Regions from separate parts of the Homo sapiens genome. Here region 2 is linked to region 1. A link means that fine-mapping ties the variant in region 1 to the expression of a gene that starts in the linked region. Tissue or cell type: thyroid. Region 1 holds a variant in brackets; the other region holds the start of a gene. All regions are shown on one strand. Distances are between the middles of the regions.

Evidence for each region. PIP is the estimated chance that this variant, and not a neighbour inherited with it, causes the effect.
Region 2: CCDC146 starts here. The variant in region 1 is fine-mapped to the expression of CCDC146 in thyroid (GTEx, PIP above 0.99).

What each region holds. Positions count from the first base shown.
Region 1 is chr7:77,277,177-77,285,283 of GRCh38, forward strand. It overlaps CCDC146 (coiled-coil domain containing 146), which reads left to right. Exons shown (of 19, transcript NM_020879.3): 12 at 1,576-1,664; 13 at 1,761-1,925; 14 at 3,253-3,477; 15 at 5,381-5,609. LOC102723791 (a long non-coding RNA gene) reads right to left here and starts at 1,176. Exons shown (of 6, transcript XR_927688.3): 1 at 968-1,176; 2 at 338-399. The variant CTATG/C (reference allele first, on the strand shown) is at 3,974.
Region 2 is chr7:77,118,355-77,126,461 of GRCh38, forward strand. CCDC146 (coiled-coil domain containing 146) reads left to right here and starts at 4,261. Exons shown (of 19, transcript NM_020879.3): 1 at 4,261-4,378. It also overlaps the pseudogene FAM185BP. RefSeq lists enhancers at 3,050-3,551, 3,552-4,051 and a silencer at 3,947-4,046.

The DNA of each region.
Region 1 (8,107 bases):
GTGTTGGCTGGGAAGATCCCACTCAAGTGAGTCTTTCCTAGTTAGAAACTTCCTCCCTTTTCTCTTTAGAAATTACAGAAACACCAGAGGTATACTTATTTGTTATAAGAAACACTGATCCGTTTTATGAATTAGATAATTTTCAATTAATTTCAAAAACTGATATACATGTATATCTATGTGTGACTAATCTATGTAAAGCAAACCTCATTATTAAATGAGCTAATTTGTATTAAACCAAAATAGACAATTCTTCTTGAGATACAGAAATTGATAAAGGACAAATGTTTATCCCTTGAGTATTTTTAGCATTAGGAATTAGTGTGTTAAACATTACCTGTACTTAGCTGCAGTTTCCATAAGAAGGCAATCTTTTATGTTCACATTGCATCCACATCCCTAAAGACAAAGGTGAAGAAAAAAAAACAATGTCACTATCACCCCTAAGACAGAATAGATGACACTACATTTTCCCATCTGTTTTATTATTCATGTGTACAGTTACTTAAATATTCGTTTCTTCCTGACCCCTATTCTCATGGAGAACAGCATTAGAAAAATGCTACACATCAATCTTGGCTCTATGGCTAGTTTCTTTCAAATCACTCATACCAAAAGGGCTTTGCTCTCAGTCCTTGAGAGAAGGCTGACAAACTCTTTCCTCTGGTTTACTACCAGCAAATCCTTCATTTTTGAATATGTTTCTTATCCCAGATGCAAGAACCAGTATCTTTTGATTTGAAGAACATAACTAGTGTATTTAGCACTTGATATATTTTTTAGAACTCTAGAAATATAACTGCTTTCTTTTAAAATATTTATGTGTAACACCTCCTTACAGCTGATCTCAATATGATGCCTTATTATGTAGGAAAACACCCCACATACAAAAGAATGGAAAGCACTTTAAAATCATTGCTTCAGTCTCTGACAAAACACCACAGAGGGTTCAGTTTATAACACTCACCAAAACTTACTAGGAATCCTCTTCTCTCATCTATTTTCCATAAACTACACTCACCCAGTCCAGCTGTGTGGTTCAAAATCACTCTTCCTCTCTCTCAAAAGTTGTCCAAACTTTTCCTCAAACCCAAGCCATGCAGGCTCTTTGCGTTTTCTCTTCTCTCGTTTGTTCTCTTCTTTAGGTAACAGTTAACAGTTTGTCTTAGCCAATGTGAATCAGTTCAGCTAGCCAGGGAATTTTCAGATCTCTTTTACCCTTCACCCTGATCTGTACAACCCAGCAAGCCAAGAAATAATTTTTTTTTTTTTTTTTTTTTTTTTGGAGAGACAGGATCTTACTTTGTCGCCCAGGCTGGAGCGGAGTGATGCAATCATGGCTCACTGCAGCCTCGAATTCTTGGGCTCGAGCGATCCTCCCACCTCAGCCTCCTGAGTAGCTGGGACTACAGGTGCACACCACCATACCCAGATAATTTTTTTATTTTTGTAGAGATGAGGTCTCACTATGTTGCCTAGGCTGGAGAATTGTCTTTAATGGAAGGGAATGATGTGGGATAAATCTGGGAGTGTTCATATGTTGTTATTTATTTCACATTTTTTTGTACATTTCAGCAAAAATACACCAACATTGTTAAAGAAATGAAAGCAAAGGATCTTGAAATCAGGATACACAAGAAGAAAAAATGTGAAATTTATCGGAGGTAAAGTAATTATGTGGTGTTTTATCTACGTAGGTGAGGGGAAAAAAACCTGATGTTCATTTCATAAGTTTCAGTAAACACTTTGTATTTTTACAGACTGAGAGAGTTTGCTAAACTGTATGACACCATTCGAAATGAAAGAAACAAATTTGTTAACTTACTCCACAAAGCTCATCAGAAAGTAAATGAAATAAAAGAAAGGCATAAAATGTCATTAAATGAACTTGAAATTCTGAGAAATAGTGCCGTTAGTCAAGAAAGGTAAGTGTTATAATAACTATTGGCCTTTCAAAGGCTTGTTTTCTGATTCATTTGAACTCTAAAAATCCTGGGGATAAGAAGATAGGAAAGAGGCAGAGGCTGCAATGAGCCAAGATGGTGCCACTGCCCTCCAGCCTGGGTGACAGAATGAGACCCTGTCTCAAAAAAATAATAAAAATAAAAAATAAAAAGAATAGTATTTTAGAAAGCCAGAATTAGAAATCCAGAAAAAGCCCTTGTTCAAACATCTTGTTTTATAGATGATAATCTACCATGCTTCTACTCTTTGGGAGTCATTTTTTTAATGAATGAAAAACCATAACATATAACTATGCTTACTATGATGATTTTCACCTGCCCAATTAGAAAGAAAAGCACAAATCTAATAATTGGGATTGGGAAGTTAGAAAACAATCAAATCGTTTGTTAACCAACATCCCCTGATTGTAGATGTAAAGCATCTCATGTGTTGTGGGAGGCAATACGTTATAGCAGATTGGTGAAAGAGGTGGTGTCCAGACTCAAATACCACCCCTCCCACTTATTACCTCTGTAACCTTGGACAAGCTGCTTTGTCTCTCTGAGCTCACTTTCCTTATCCATACCATATTTCATGCGACATTTTACTGTGAAATGAGCTAATTCATATAAAAACACTCAGAAAAGCGTCTGGCAAATGGTTGTTTTCTTCATTTATTATTTACCATGTGCCAAGATCTTCTGGACTCTTTCACCTATGTTAGTAAACAGTACACGATCAGGGTATAATCTAATTTTCTGATGGCCATTATTGCCCAGTTTCCTTCAACAAAGCAATTATAAAGTGGCCTCATTTCAGGGGTCGGGGGTGGATGAAAAGAAAAATATGATTTCCTAATCAGGTTCTCATCCAACTTGAAAATAAAATACATTTATAGAGGCCATGCATTCATTCAGCATTTATTGTGGCCACAGGCTGAGTCAGGCACCACCTTATGTCCAGTGGACATTATTGGATATAACCATCTCTGTCCTCAAGACAGCAGTCTCCTGAGAATGACAATAAATGAATGACTGCAGTCTCTCGCTTTGATAAAGGGGGTCAGCAGAACATTGGGGGGAAAAGGAAAGATGTTCTAATCTGGAGCAGAGAAAATCTGAGACCTGGAAGGATTATGAAAATTCCTGAAGAGTATCATAAGATGAATATCATTATTACTAGTATCATTTCAAGGGCTACACTAAAGCAAGGTCTGCTTTGATAGTGCTTGTGTTTCAGAAGCCTTCATTCCTTTTAAATAAACTAAAGAAAATTATAATCTTACCCATTGTCTTATTACTTTAAAAGAAAGCTACAAAATTCCATGCTGAAACACGCCAACAATGTTACCATCAGAGAGAGCATGCAAAACGATGTGCGCAAAATTGTATCAAAACTTCAGGAAATGAAAGAAAAGAAGGAAGCCCAGTTAAATAACATTGACAGACTTGCCAACACGATCACAATGATCGAAGAGGAGATGGTGCAGCTTCGCAAAAGATACGAAAAAGCTGTTCAGCATCGAAATGAAAGGTAAAAACCAGGTGTGAGAACAGAGCACCAGGGATCCAACTGAGGAATGTCACCTCTTTTTCTATCTAGACTTGACAGTGAATAGTGAGGGAAATGTGATATTCAGGTTGCATTAGCCTTTGGAGAGAAGGGACTGTGTGTTGCTTCCCTGGAAAATAAGAAACACTGTCCTCACGCTGGGCACAGTGGCATGATCCCAGCACTTTGGGAGGCCAAGGTGGGTGGATCACTTGAGCTCAGGAGTTCGAGACCAGCCTGGGCAATAGGGTGAAACCCCATCCCTACTAAAAATACAAGAAATTAGCCAGGTGTGGTGGTGGGGGCCTGTAATCCCAGCTACTTGGGAAGCTGCAGCACGAGAATCGCTTGAACCCGGGAGGCAGAGGTTGCAGTGAGCTGAGATCGTGCCACTGCACTATAGCCTGGGCAACAGAGCAAGACTCCGTCTCCAAAAACAAACAAAAAAAAAAAAAGAGAGAAAGAAAGAAATACCGTC[CTATG/C]TCATAAACAGGCAAAGAGGAGGGGTTTGGGAAAGTTGCTTGCTTTTGAAGATCAATGTCCTTTCCTAAGTGGTCATTCGGGTTGCCTCTTATAACATCAGATTCTTTCAGCATAATTGACATAAATAAGTGTGGAACTTGTACCCAATGTTGTGGTAAGTTTGGTCTTATTATATTTAGCCATTCTCCTAGTTCATTTGCTCAGCAAGTTAGTAAGACCTTTAGGAGTAGCATTATTTCTTCCAGGTTGCAGTTATATCATTAATCAATGTTTACTTCAGCAGTTTCTCCCAAGTTACTTGTGCTCTGAGAAATTGGAATGTGAAATTTGCAGAGCCCTGTGATAATGACATCTGGTATCAGATTTTTTTTAAGCAAACTTTGATTGTGTGCTATTCTGTATAAGGCATTAGAGTGCTAGACCTTGAGAGTACAAAAAAGTGGTAAAACATTGTTCCTGGCTTCTGTTGTCAAGAGAACTTGATCTTGAGCCTTTGAAAGGAAAACAGACAAAATATAGAGCTGGGATTAGCTGAGTACAACCACATGCATGCATGTTTTGAGGAAGGGGAGTCATAGATAGAAGCAATTAAAGGAGGAACTCTGAAATAATGTATATGCATAATGTGTGGGAAGACCTTTAGGGTCCTTTGAAGAACAGCACATTTTCAAAGGGCTGGTAGGTTTTTCTCCAGGGGAGAAAAAAAATGCTATTCAGCTCCTGGCACAAACCAAAGCGTTTGGACAAACAGTGTGCACCCAGGTGCCACTCAGATCAGTGGTGCATGATCGGTCATGCAGACCAGAGCTGCTGGGGTTAGAACATTCTTACTTTGTTTCCTCCCCATATTCTCCATTCAAGGAGGGGTCTTTCTCCTGGCATGATTACAAAGGATAGATTTTTGCCTGTTTATGGGGAAATCACAACCAGAAATATTCAACTTGAGAAGAAACTAATGGGCCTAGCAACTTAATATAGAGCAGACTCACACCAGAACTACATTCCCTGGCCCCCTGCCTGTGTGCTTCTGGCCAGGCCTTGGTTGGCAAGTCTGACCCGAGAAAAGGATCTGCAGAAAATCAGACTATGGGATCACTTTGTTTGTGCATTGGGAATGACATTCTTTCCCACCCCAGGAAAACCTTTGGGACTTTCAGAGACATTGTGGCTAGCCAACCACATGGTCAGCCTCAAAGTTGAGAGGCTCAGTAACCCTCCTATCCCTAGAGAATTCCAAAGTGTGGATGTAATTTAACTAGAAAGCCATTGGTGACTATCTGTGATCCTCTGGAAGTATGCTATGTTGTGTATATCTTGCATCCAAAGCCAGAGGGAACCACAATGACTAGTAAAACGGTGGTCTCAATGCCCACTTAGCCTCTGCCTCTGAATTTGACCATAGTGGCGTTCAGCTGATAGAGCGGGAAGAAGAAATATGCATTTTTTATGAAAAAATAAATATCCAAGAGAAGATGAAACTAAATGGAGAAATTGAAATACATCTACTGGAAGAAAAGATCCAATTCCTGAAAATGAAGATTGCTGAGAAGCAAAGACAAATTTGTGTGACCCAGAAATTACTGCCAGCCAAGAGGTCCCTGGATGCCGACCTAGCTGTGCTCCAAATTCAGGTGGGTGAGTGATCACGGGACACTTCCTCAGACCATTTATTTTTTTCTGCCTTTATTAGTTTGTGGGTGAGTTCTTGCATGTAAACCAAGCCATACTATTTCTGGGACCTATAAGAATCCATCCATCTTGTTTAAAAATACATTTGAATGCTACTCTAGGATGGAATCTGTGCTTCAGGCATCCAGGCTACACATTGTCTTTTTTTCTTATGAAGCATTTTCTGCTTTTCTTGGAATTTGAAGACTCCCAGGACTTATCTCTAGCTCAGCTTCCTCATAGCTCAAAATTTAGTGATCTAGACTCTCACTACCCTCAGCATAATTATGTCGTTGCTGCTTGCTGGACAGATCTTGAGGATGAGCCAGCACTCTTACTTTTGATACTCTGGCCCCCAGAGCAAGAGATTGTCTGGAGATTGTTGCTTATTAGTAGTTGTCAGTTACATATAACTTGATTCTTTATTAACCACTGTAGTTCTATGATAGCTTAGTAACCTGGCCTTTGACATGGCCTTTTTTAAAGTGGAATAGATCCAAAAAACTAAAACATGAAATAACAAAATAAATAAAATGTGAATATAAAGTTACTTTCTTCACATGTGTTACTTGGGGTTTATTCTTCATAGAATTTTTTTAAAAATTAAAATAAAAACTGTGTAGCCTAAACTTGTTCCCATTGACCAATGTAGCAGGAACAAATTCTAACCTATAATATTTTTTTTTAAATGTCAGGTTTGCGTTTGGATTTTTTTTCCTGATAAAAAGTTAAGACATTTGGTGAATGAAATTTTGTAAAAGTATAAAAATTATAAAGAAGAAAATAAAATTCTACTCCCAAGATATAATTGCTATTAAAATTATCAAAAATCTGGGAGACATCTTGTCATTTATTTTCTAGGTATACAAGTAAATGTTTTTCATTAGCTCATGCCCTAGACAGTTTTAGATCCCCCTTTTTTTTAATCATGTGAAGGGGATTCATAGGATTTCATGGGACTAGATGATAGATCTGCTTTCATATTTTATGCCATTTGAATGTGTATATGCTGTATAGATAATAGCCTCTTTCAGTTTGCACAAATATGCCAATGTTCTGATTCCAAGTTTGTTTGTTTTTTTAATTTAGCCTTGAGTTCTTCCACTCATTTCTTCAGTAAGTGTAGTCAGATTGAGATCGATTGGCTAGAAAGTCCCCCTAAACTCCCACAGGCCTCCCCAGGCTTCCTGTGGCTCTGACTCCTGCTTCCAACAAGGTTCATTTGAGGGATCACCCATCAGCCTGCACACACAGTGCCTGTGCCACTTCTGTGCCATGTCTGCAAAGGCACGGAACTCACCCCTTCCTCAGGCTACACCTACACAAGACCATTCAAGCGAGGCCTCTGTGGACAGACTTTATTAAAGATGTGGGGCAATGGTATGTGGGGTTACATTACAGAAATGCAAAGCACTTCAATTTGATATCAGATATCCATACTCTTCTTGGGGGCACTGGAGACGCTTCCCTGAGCACTAATACCTTGTACCACACCCTTGCCTAGCTCGATTTCACTGGCTTCTCTTTCACCTCCCCTCTCCCTCCACAGCCTCCTCATCCCAGATTGCCCCCAGGAACTCCATGCTTGCCCCCACTCCATTTTACAGAAGAATTTGTCTCTCTCCAGCTTTTTCCCAAAATGAAGATTTAGGTCCATCTTTGCCCATCCTAAACTATCAAGATGCAGAGCAACACAAAAGATCTTTAAATTCAATAAAATCTGCAACAGAATAATTTCCTCTCTATTGTATAAGCATATTCTTTGTGTTCACTGCAAATCAATACTTCCATTCAGTGGATAAAATTGTTCTTAGAAAAAAAATTGTCATTTTATTATATAAAACCTATTATCTAGTATGAAATGTAAATTCACTTTTACCCAAGAAGGAAATATTATGCATTTCATAACACTACACTCCCTGCCTGATGGTGAATTTTGATCATTTTGATTGCACATGAACTGAGACATGCAGACTGTGTTATCAGTTATCTGCTCTACCGGAGTGAATTCTGATTATCTGCTCAGCATCAATCATGTGTACCCTTGAAGGATATGATGTGAAATTTCTAGCTTCAGGCAAGCCATTTCTGTGCCCTGTTCTGCAGTGTCAGATCCCGGTCATATCCTGTCATTTTTTACAGCCACAGTGTCTTGGGGTTTGTTTTTTTTTTAAGTCTTCTCCCTTTTTTGCATCATTTTCAGAATTCTCTTAAGGTTTGCATTTTTTTCGGTCGTCCATAACAGTTTTTAATTGTCCAACAATCTAATCCAAGGATTATCATGAGTCTGTTCTCCTGGTTCCTATAATGATAGCTCAATTTTAGGAAGTTATATGAACTATTTTGGGACACAAGGACACTATTTTACATAGACAGAGTAAACAGTTTTTCCTCAAATGCCAAGGGAAAACTAAAATTGAGACATCCCTTTATAAGCAAGCACTATATTTTTGTTTCTTAT
Region 2 (8,107 bases), 160 kb before region 1:
AATGCATCAAATTATTCTAACTAGTGTTTAGAAATCTAAAAATGAAAATATTTTGCAATTATGAAGCAAAGATGACTGACTTCAACAAAATTGCATGCTTTCAAAGTTCACAAAAGTATCAAGTTTTGACTATGCAAATGCAAGAAGCACTAAGAGTAACGATAAGCTAGCACCTATCAGAGAGGTATTTCAAACTATTTACAGCTAACACCAGTCTAATCTTTAAAAAATTAAATATAGGTCAGTCATGGTGACTCACACCTGTAATCCCAGCACTTCATGAGCCCAAGGCAGGAGGATCACTTGAGCCCATGAGTTCAAGACCAGCCTGGCGCAATACAGTGAGACCCTGTCTCTACAAAGAAAACACTAAAAAAAAAAAAAATTAATTACAGCCGGGCGCAGTGGCTCATGCCTGTAATCCTAGCACTTTGGGAGGCCAAGGCAGGCGGATCACGAGGTCAGGAGATCGAGACCAGCCTGGCCAACATGGTGAAACCCTGTCTCTACTAAATATACAAACATTAACTGAGTGTGGTGGTGCATGCCTGTAATCCCAGCTACTTGGGAGGCTGAGGCAGGAGAATTGCTTGTACCAGGGAGTCAGAGGTTGCAGTGAGCTGAGATTGCACCACTGCACTCCAGCCTGGTGACAGAGTAAGACTCCGTCTCAAAAAAAAAAAAAAATTTAATTACAAAACAAGATGAATCATATGTTACTTTGCACAAATAACTACTTAATCCTTAAGTAATGAGCTAGCTACCTGGTACATTAAAAATGTGATTAAAGTCATCTAATATTTAAGCACATTTATAGTGCACAAAGATTCTTCCTTACTCTTTAATAAAATGGAAGAAAATCATTTGTGGAAACTAAAATTTCTTTAGTAAGATTTCAGAATACTAGGAAAATACTATTAGTTTCACTGTACACTTTGAAATTAAATCAAAAAGAAATTTGAGGCAAAACCTCAAAACTGCTATAACCTCTGTACTTTACTAGAACTGATTTCAAGGCAAAATGTTTGCCAAGGACTTTCTGAGAGATGAATAAATGACAATGTTCTGAAAAACAGAAGAATCTCTTGAGTTTGATAGTACGATTCATAGCTTAAGGCTTTTAAAAAAATAATAGTGAAATAAAATTAGAAAAATGCTATACCTTAACAGACTGCAAGATGCTAGTCCCATGCTCTGTTTCAATTTTGCAATTATCACCCTCAATACTTTGAACTTCTACACAGCCAGACCCTGATGACTTGATATCTAAACCTAGAAGTAAAAAAAGAAAAAAGCAAGTTAGTACTGCAGTTTATAAGCTCCAAAGCATTTTAACCTAGAAACCCAACTCCTCAGTTATGTCCATAATATTGCTGAATCCTGGAAAGTGCATACTGTAAAGGTAAGGGGTCTTCTACCACGGCAACGGGACCAAATACAATAGCCTTTCTGCCCGTTTTTAGAAACAGAGCAGTTATTTCTACTGGCCTAAATCACCTAAAGAGAACTAACATAGATGGGAAGTAAAGGAGACTACGATTCTGTTAAGTACTCCTGTGAAAGACTGTAGAAGCCTCTTCCCCAGTATATATGATCATGACTTAGGTTTTCAAATCCTATGTCTAACCTTTCATACTTAAAAAATGAAAATATTACCATGCAACTATATCACAAGGTATTTGAAGTAATTTTTTAAAAATGGGAACAACTTTGAAAAACCTAATATATACTATTAAAACTACAAGATTAGGCCATGAGCCGTGGCTCATGCCTGTAATACCAGCACTTTGGGAGGCCGAGGAAGGAGGATTGCTTGAAGCCCAGGAGTTCAAGACCAGCCTGGACAATGTGGCAAAACTCCCTTTCTACAAAAAAACAAAAACATTAGCCAGGCATGGTAGCATGCACCTGTAGTCCCAGCTACTCAGGAGGCGGAGGCGAGAAGATTGCTTAAAACCGTGAAGTCAAGACTGCAGTGGGCCATGATTGTGCACCTGTACTCCAGCCTGCATGGCAGAGTGAGTGAGATGCAGTCTCAAAAAAAACCAAAACAAACAAACAAAAAACCCCACAAGATTGTGGACAAATGGCAGTGGTACATGAAGCAAGTTTGGAAAATAAGGAATTACAAATGCCATCCTTGGCTGTCTATTTAAGATGTAACTGCAGGCATCGCTGTATACAAATTTTAAAAATTAAAAACGCTGATATTTAATTTGGAATTAACATAAATATTGATGATTTCTCTTAAAGTAGGCAAGACCCGCCCCCCCGACTTGATTCCTGAAACCACAAATAGTACCAAATCCTATATATTCTATGTTTTTTCCTGTATACATATCAATGATCAAGTTTAATTTATAAACTAGGCATAGTAAGAGATGAACAACAATAATAATAAATACAGCAATTATAACAATATACTGTAATAAAAGTTATATTACTGTGATCTGTCAAAATATCTTAATATTTTCCTACAACAGTTGAGGCAGGTAACAAACTCAGACAGCCAAACGGTGGATAAGGGAGGACTACGGCATCTACTATTTGGGCAACTGTAAGCATTATAAAAGATGATCTTAAAAATGCTAAATGCTATTATTATTACCATCATCATCATCATCAATATCTTCCTTCAGTCCCAGGAAGAATGACAGTCTGGGGAGCCCTTCCTAGAAAAGTGTGTGTACACAGTGGCTTGCCATTTAGGAAAACCTAAGAAAGGTATCTTGCAGGCATTATTATTGAAGCTTCCTAGGCAGGCTTACCATGTGTTTTTCTTCAAAGCTTGCTACTCATGGAAAACTTAGGCCAAAAAGAATGGAAACATAACAGTAAGAAGCTGGGCGCCCGTCTAAAACCAAATACTCAAACCAGGTGGTACCTGGAACATCCTATTGACAGGGCTGTTTTGGGACACACCCCCAGGCTGTGAGCAAGGGGAAATGTAGATGGACTGCCATACCATTGAATGAATTGTCAAGAAACTTCAACCTTGAAAAATAAGCCAGTTTGCTAATGACAACGGGATAAAGAAGAACACAAGCGGCTCCAGAAATAGAATTTGACCTGGATTATACCAAATCGTGTTTCCATTCGATGTATAAAATTTCTATAATTGGGAACCTAATTTTTTAAATACTACTCGGATACTCAAGAATAGAACAGAGGAAAAGTTGCATTTCCGAAGGGGCCAACTGTAAATTAGGTTTAGAAAGCCAGGACCAATTAAAAGTGCACGTCGACCAAATTTATTAAGTTCACTGTGCGTTCCCTGGGACCCAAACCCGTTTTCACTTCACTTCACTTGCCAAACTTCAGGGGCGCGTTCACCTCCACGGACGCCTGGGGGTGGATAGTATCAGACACAATGGCCATCTCCTCCAGATCCTCGTCGTACTTCACCTGCAGGCCGTCCAGGCCCCGCACGCCGCCCTCCACGCCGCACACCGCGACCAGCACGCGGTCGCCATCCGGGTAGGTGAGGGGGTCCAGGGGCCTCACGGCCAGGTGGCACGGGAGCCGCGCCCGCAGCCGACCGAACGGGCTCACCTGCAGTGTCCACTCCTTCAGAGTTCGGCGCGCCGGGCCAGGCGGAGGGACCTCAGTCTCCGATCCGGGCCAGCGCTCGCCCCTACCTGAGCTGTACGGCCTGGCTTGGCAAGCCCAGCAAGACCAGCGCCCAGCGCCAGCCCACAGTCGGACCTGACGGAGACAGAGACGGAAGCAGCCAAGCTCCCAACCTGAACAGGGGGCAAGCATGGCGCGCCTCTCTCGCCAGTCCTCAGAACACTTCAGCCACAGGGAGGGTCACTTGCCACGGCCAATCGACTTGGCCACTGTGCCGCCTCAAGTCAAATAGGAGACGTAAGTCAGGGTTTGCTGAAACAAGAGCGAGCCGGTTGGCTTGACTAGGCGATGTAAACATCAGCTGCGTAATCCCCAGGGGCAAGTTGGGATTTGAAAGCTCTGAACTCTGACCTGGACCCCTTGCCTAAGTCCACCCCCTTTCGCTAAGGCCGACGGGATACGTAGTTCTAAAGCGGTGGAAAGTCGCAGAGCTCCGCCTCTTAGAAACCACATATCCCAGGAGGCAATGCGCAGGGGAGCACGGGTAAGAGGGCAGGTGTTAGAATCGCTGGAAAGGCGGGCGCCCTTTGTTTCAAGACCATTGGCTATTGGAGGGGCGGTACATGGGAGGCCACTGGCCAATGGGAAGCACGGAAGGGGGCAACGAGGGTAAAGCTGCATGGTCACCTTGGATACCAAGGACGCGACTTCTTGTTTGGAGAGGGTGGAGCTTTGGAGTGAGACCCAGGAGGCCAAATCCCAAAGAGAAAAATAGGAGCCTAAATAAGGATCAGGACCAAGGGAAGGGGTAAGAAACTGCGCTTTTTAAGTTGACAACTAGGTGCAAACTAGGAGTAACCTATGTGGATGTCAAGATCCAAGCTTCACTAACCTAGTGCGGGCATCTCCAGGGCATGGAGAATGCCTTGGTAAGAGAGTAAAGAGCAAGATTGGTGCTTTTTGAGGGAATTGCCTCTTTGGAAGTGTATTCCCTCCTATATTCCAAATATAGGAATAGAGTACTTGCTCCGTCCTGACCCTAAGTGACCTTACTTTGGGTTTTAATTTGCTCACTTTAAAAATGTAGATGATAATACCTTCCTTGCCTTGCCTCAAAGGGTTTTTGTGAGGATCAAGTAAGAAAATGGATGGGACCGTGGTGCACAGTCTACCAAATTACCGTGTAAAGTACTGTATTTTTATTTCAACGTACTTAACATTGATTCTGAGTTACCAAGAAAATTATGAGAGATCAGAACTTGTTTTGAGAATAGCATTGATCTCTTTGACTACAAATGATCATCAGTTTTAGAGTGAAAAAAAAAAAGACACAAAAAAGAGAGTCACCATGGTGCGGTGGAAAGAGCAGGGACAAGGGTCAGATTATTTTCCTGGCTCTGCCACTGCTTCATCTGTGTCACCTAGACCTGTTTCTTTAGTTTTAAAATGAAGAAAGATGGTTCTAAATGACCCTATAAGGTGTGTGTGTGTGTGTGTGTGTGTGTGTGTGTGTGTGTGTGTGTGTGTGTGTGTTTACCTTTTATAATTCTATGGGCAGTAAAATAATGGGAACAGAAAGATTTATTTTCTTCTTTTTTTCTTCTTTCCTGCCTGGTTTCTCTCTCCCCCTCTGTGCCCCTACTTCCTCCTAAAATGTATTCCCTAAATTATTTAGCCAAGACACCTGCAAACACTAACATTTCATAAAATGCAAGTGCCTTAAAAAATTGAAGCCCTTACCCAAGTACAATGACCAGAATTCTTGGGGCTATCGTGATAGATAGACTGGGCTAAAGTTCTCATGGGTACAAGTCTCAGGTTCTCTGCTAGCCACTACCTTTTTAAAATTTTTAAAAATTCAGTGTTCTCTTAAGTTATCATTGCCTCTTTTCTGTCCTTCTAGTCCTTGCTCCCTCCTTATTCTTCTTTCGGTGAAGACTCACTCATTATAGGTGCTAGCTCAGGTTCAGCAAGGGCCCACTGCAATAGTTCTTTTCTTGTCTTTGTGTTTCATTGGTTATAATTATTCAGAATAATCTTCAAACTATTTTTTATGAAAATTGACAGGTGTAACTTTGAAAAGAAATTTGAAAAAGGCACTGGTTTAAGGAAGTTGAGAATGTACTCAAATTTTCTGTAGAAACACTAGACATTTTTAGATTAAATATTAATTCTTAATAGTTAATTCTGTGTCTATGGTAATTTTTCCGTTTCTGAGACAAACTAAGTTAATGGAATTGGCAACTGAACTATAATTTTCTATGTTGCATAATCATTATTTTACTTTTTCAAACAAAAACCAAATAGAATTGACTGAAAATTTACTTTGCTGATCATACAAGGTTGAAAATGGAGAAAATTATTAATATTAAGATTGGTATAAAATAGTTAAAGTTATAGACACTTAAAAACAGTATAATGAGTATCAAATCTGTCCACATATCAACAATGATTAATAAAAGTTGTATCTTCCATCCATATGACATTATAATTGTCAAACCATGTTCACATGCGTCATCTCACTGTATCCTCACTAATTAGGAGGGAAATTATTCTCCTCACACTATAGATGGGGAAACAGATTCAGAAACATTAAGATTAAGCAATTAGAAGGTCTGGCCCTTTTATCACTCTACCAAAACGTCCATTTTCCTGACACCTTTGAAGAAAAAATGAAATTATTCACCTCATAAGTAGAAAATTATATACAACTTTTTTCTCCTTATTTAGAGTTTGTTTCTAAGATATTTTCACATCTTAGTTTAAAAAAGCTATTTCTGTGGTCATGAACATATACTTCTGGTAGGAGTGTTAAGTTAGCACAAAATTTTTAGAGTTCAATTCAGCAATAAGAATGAAAAGCTTTTTCTATGACTCAGAAATTGTGCTTTTGGGGATGTAAGCATAAAATTAGGGATGCTCAAGGAATTATGTTTTATAGGGTTACTTGTAAGAGAAAATAATTGCATCAATTTAAATGCTCCCTGGCCAGGTGCAGTGGCTCATGCCTGTAATTTCAGCACTTTGGGAGGCTGAGACAGGTGGATCACCTGAGGTCAGGAGTTCAGGACCAGCCTGGCCAACATGGTGAAACTCCATCTCTACTAAAAATTAAAAAAATTAGCTTGGCGTAGTGATGGACACCTGTAATCCCAGCTACTCAGGAGGCTGAGACAGGAGAATCACTTAAACACAGGAGGTAGAGGTTGCAGTGAGCCGAGATCACACCACTGCACTCCAGCCTGGGCGGCAAGAGTGAAACTCTGTCTCAATAAAAAAATGTTAAATGCTCCCAAATAAGACAGTATTACATAAATTAGTATATAGCTGATATATTATGCAACAATTTAAACATATCTTGATATGGGAAATAGTCCATATATAAAGTGAAAAGAATATATACAAAATTGCACGTATAGTATGATCTCAATTGTGTAATAATAATAATAAATTTAACATAAAATTATACTTTACAGAAACAATTCCAGAGGGATATATACCACTTGATAACAGTTGTTATCTTTAAGCAGTGATATGATGAGTGGTTACTGCAATTTTTTGTGTGTTATCAATAGTGAAAATATATTACATTTATAAGAAAACAATTTTAAAGCATTTCTTAGCATATATTGTTTCCTAAAACTGACTCAAATAATCAGATGGGCAGAAGATTTCTTACCATCTAGATATAAATGTCAACGAATATTTTATTTAATGATTTATGTTCAATAAATGGACAGCAGAGGTCATAAGAGAGTTTTCAGAAGAAAAGGTAACCAAAACAAAGAATTCAGCAATTTAGCTTAAGAGAAAAGCCATAAGAATTTAACTTTCTGAATTATAAACTATTTAAAAAGAGATATATCTTATGACTTCTATTATTCTTATGAAATATTAATAAACTCAACAATCTTAACTAATAACTATCAACATTGAGAAGTATTTAATGAATATATATAGGTACTAATTCTATTTGAAATCTCTATGTGAAACTGCAAATAGACAGTTTTATTTCTTCCTTTCTCATCTGTATGGCTTTTCTTTCCTAGTGTTATTGCACTGGCTAAGACCGCCACTACAATATTGAGTTGGAGTGGCAAAAGCAAAAATCCTTGATTTATTTCCTATTTATGAGGGAAATTTCAACAACAATTAGGAAGTTAGCAGTAGATTTTTAAAGATGCCCTTTAGCAAGTTAAGGAAGTTTACTTTCTAATTTGCTTAGACTTTTTATCATAAGTGAATGTTGCATTTTGTCAAATGCTTTTTCTGTATCTATGAAGATGATCATATTGTTTTTCTTCTGATTTATTGATATGTGTATTACAGTGATTGATTTTCAAGTGTTTCATTCCCTCAATAAGCTACATTTCATCATGTTATTGTCAGGGAGTTTTGGGTTGTCAATTTCCTGGCCAGAAACCTCTGTGGCCACAGCACCTTTGCCCGAATTCTTGTCCTGCATCCAGGAAGAATGAGGTACGCAGACAAGTGAAGGGTGAACGAGACGAAGATGAGCTTTATTAAGTGTTACAAG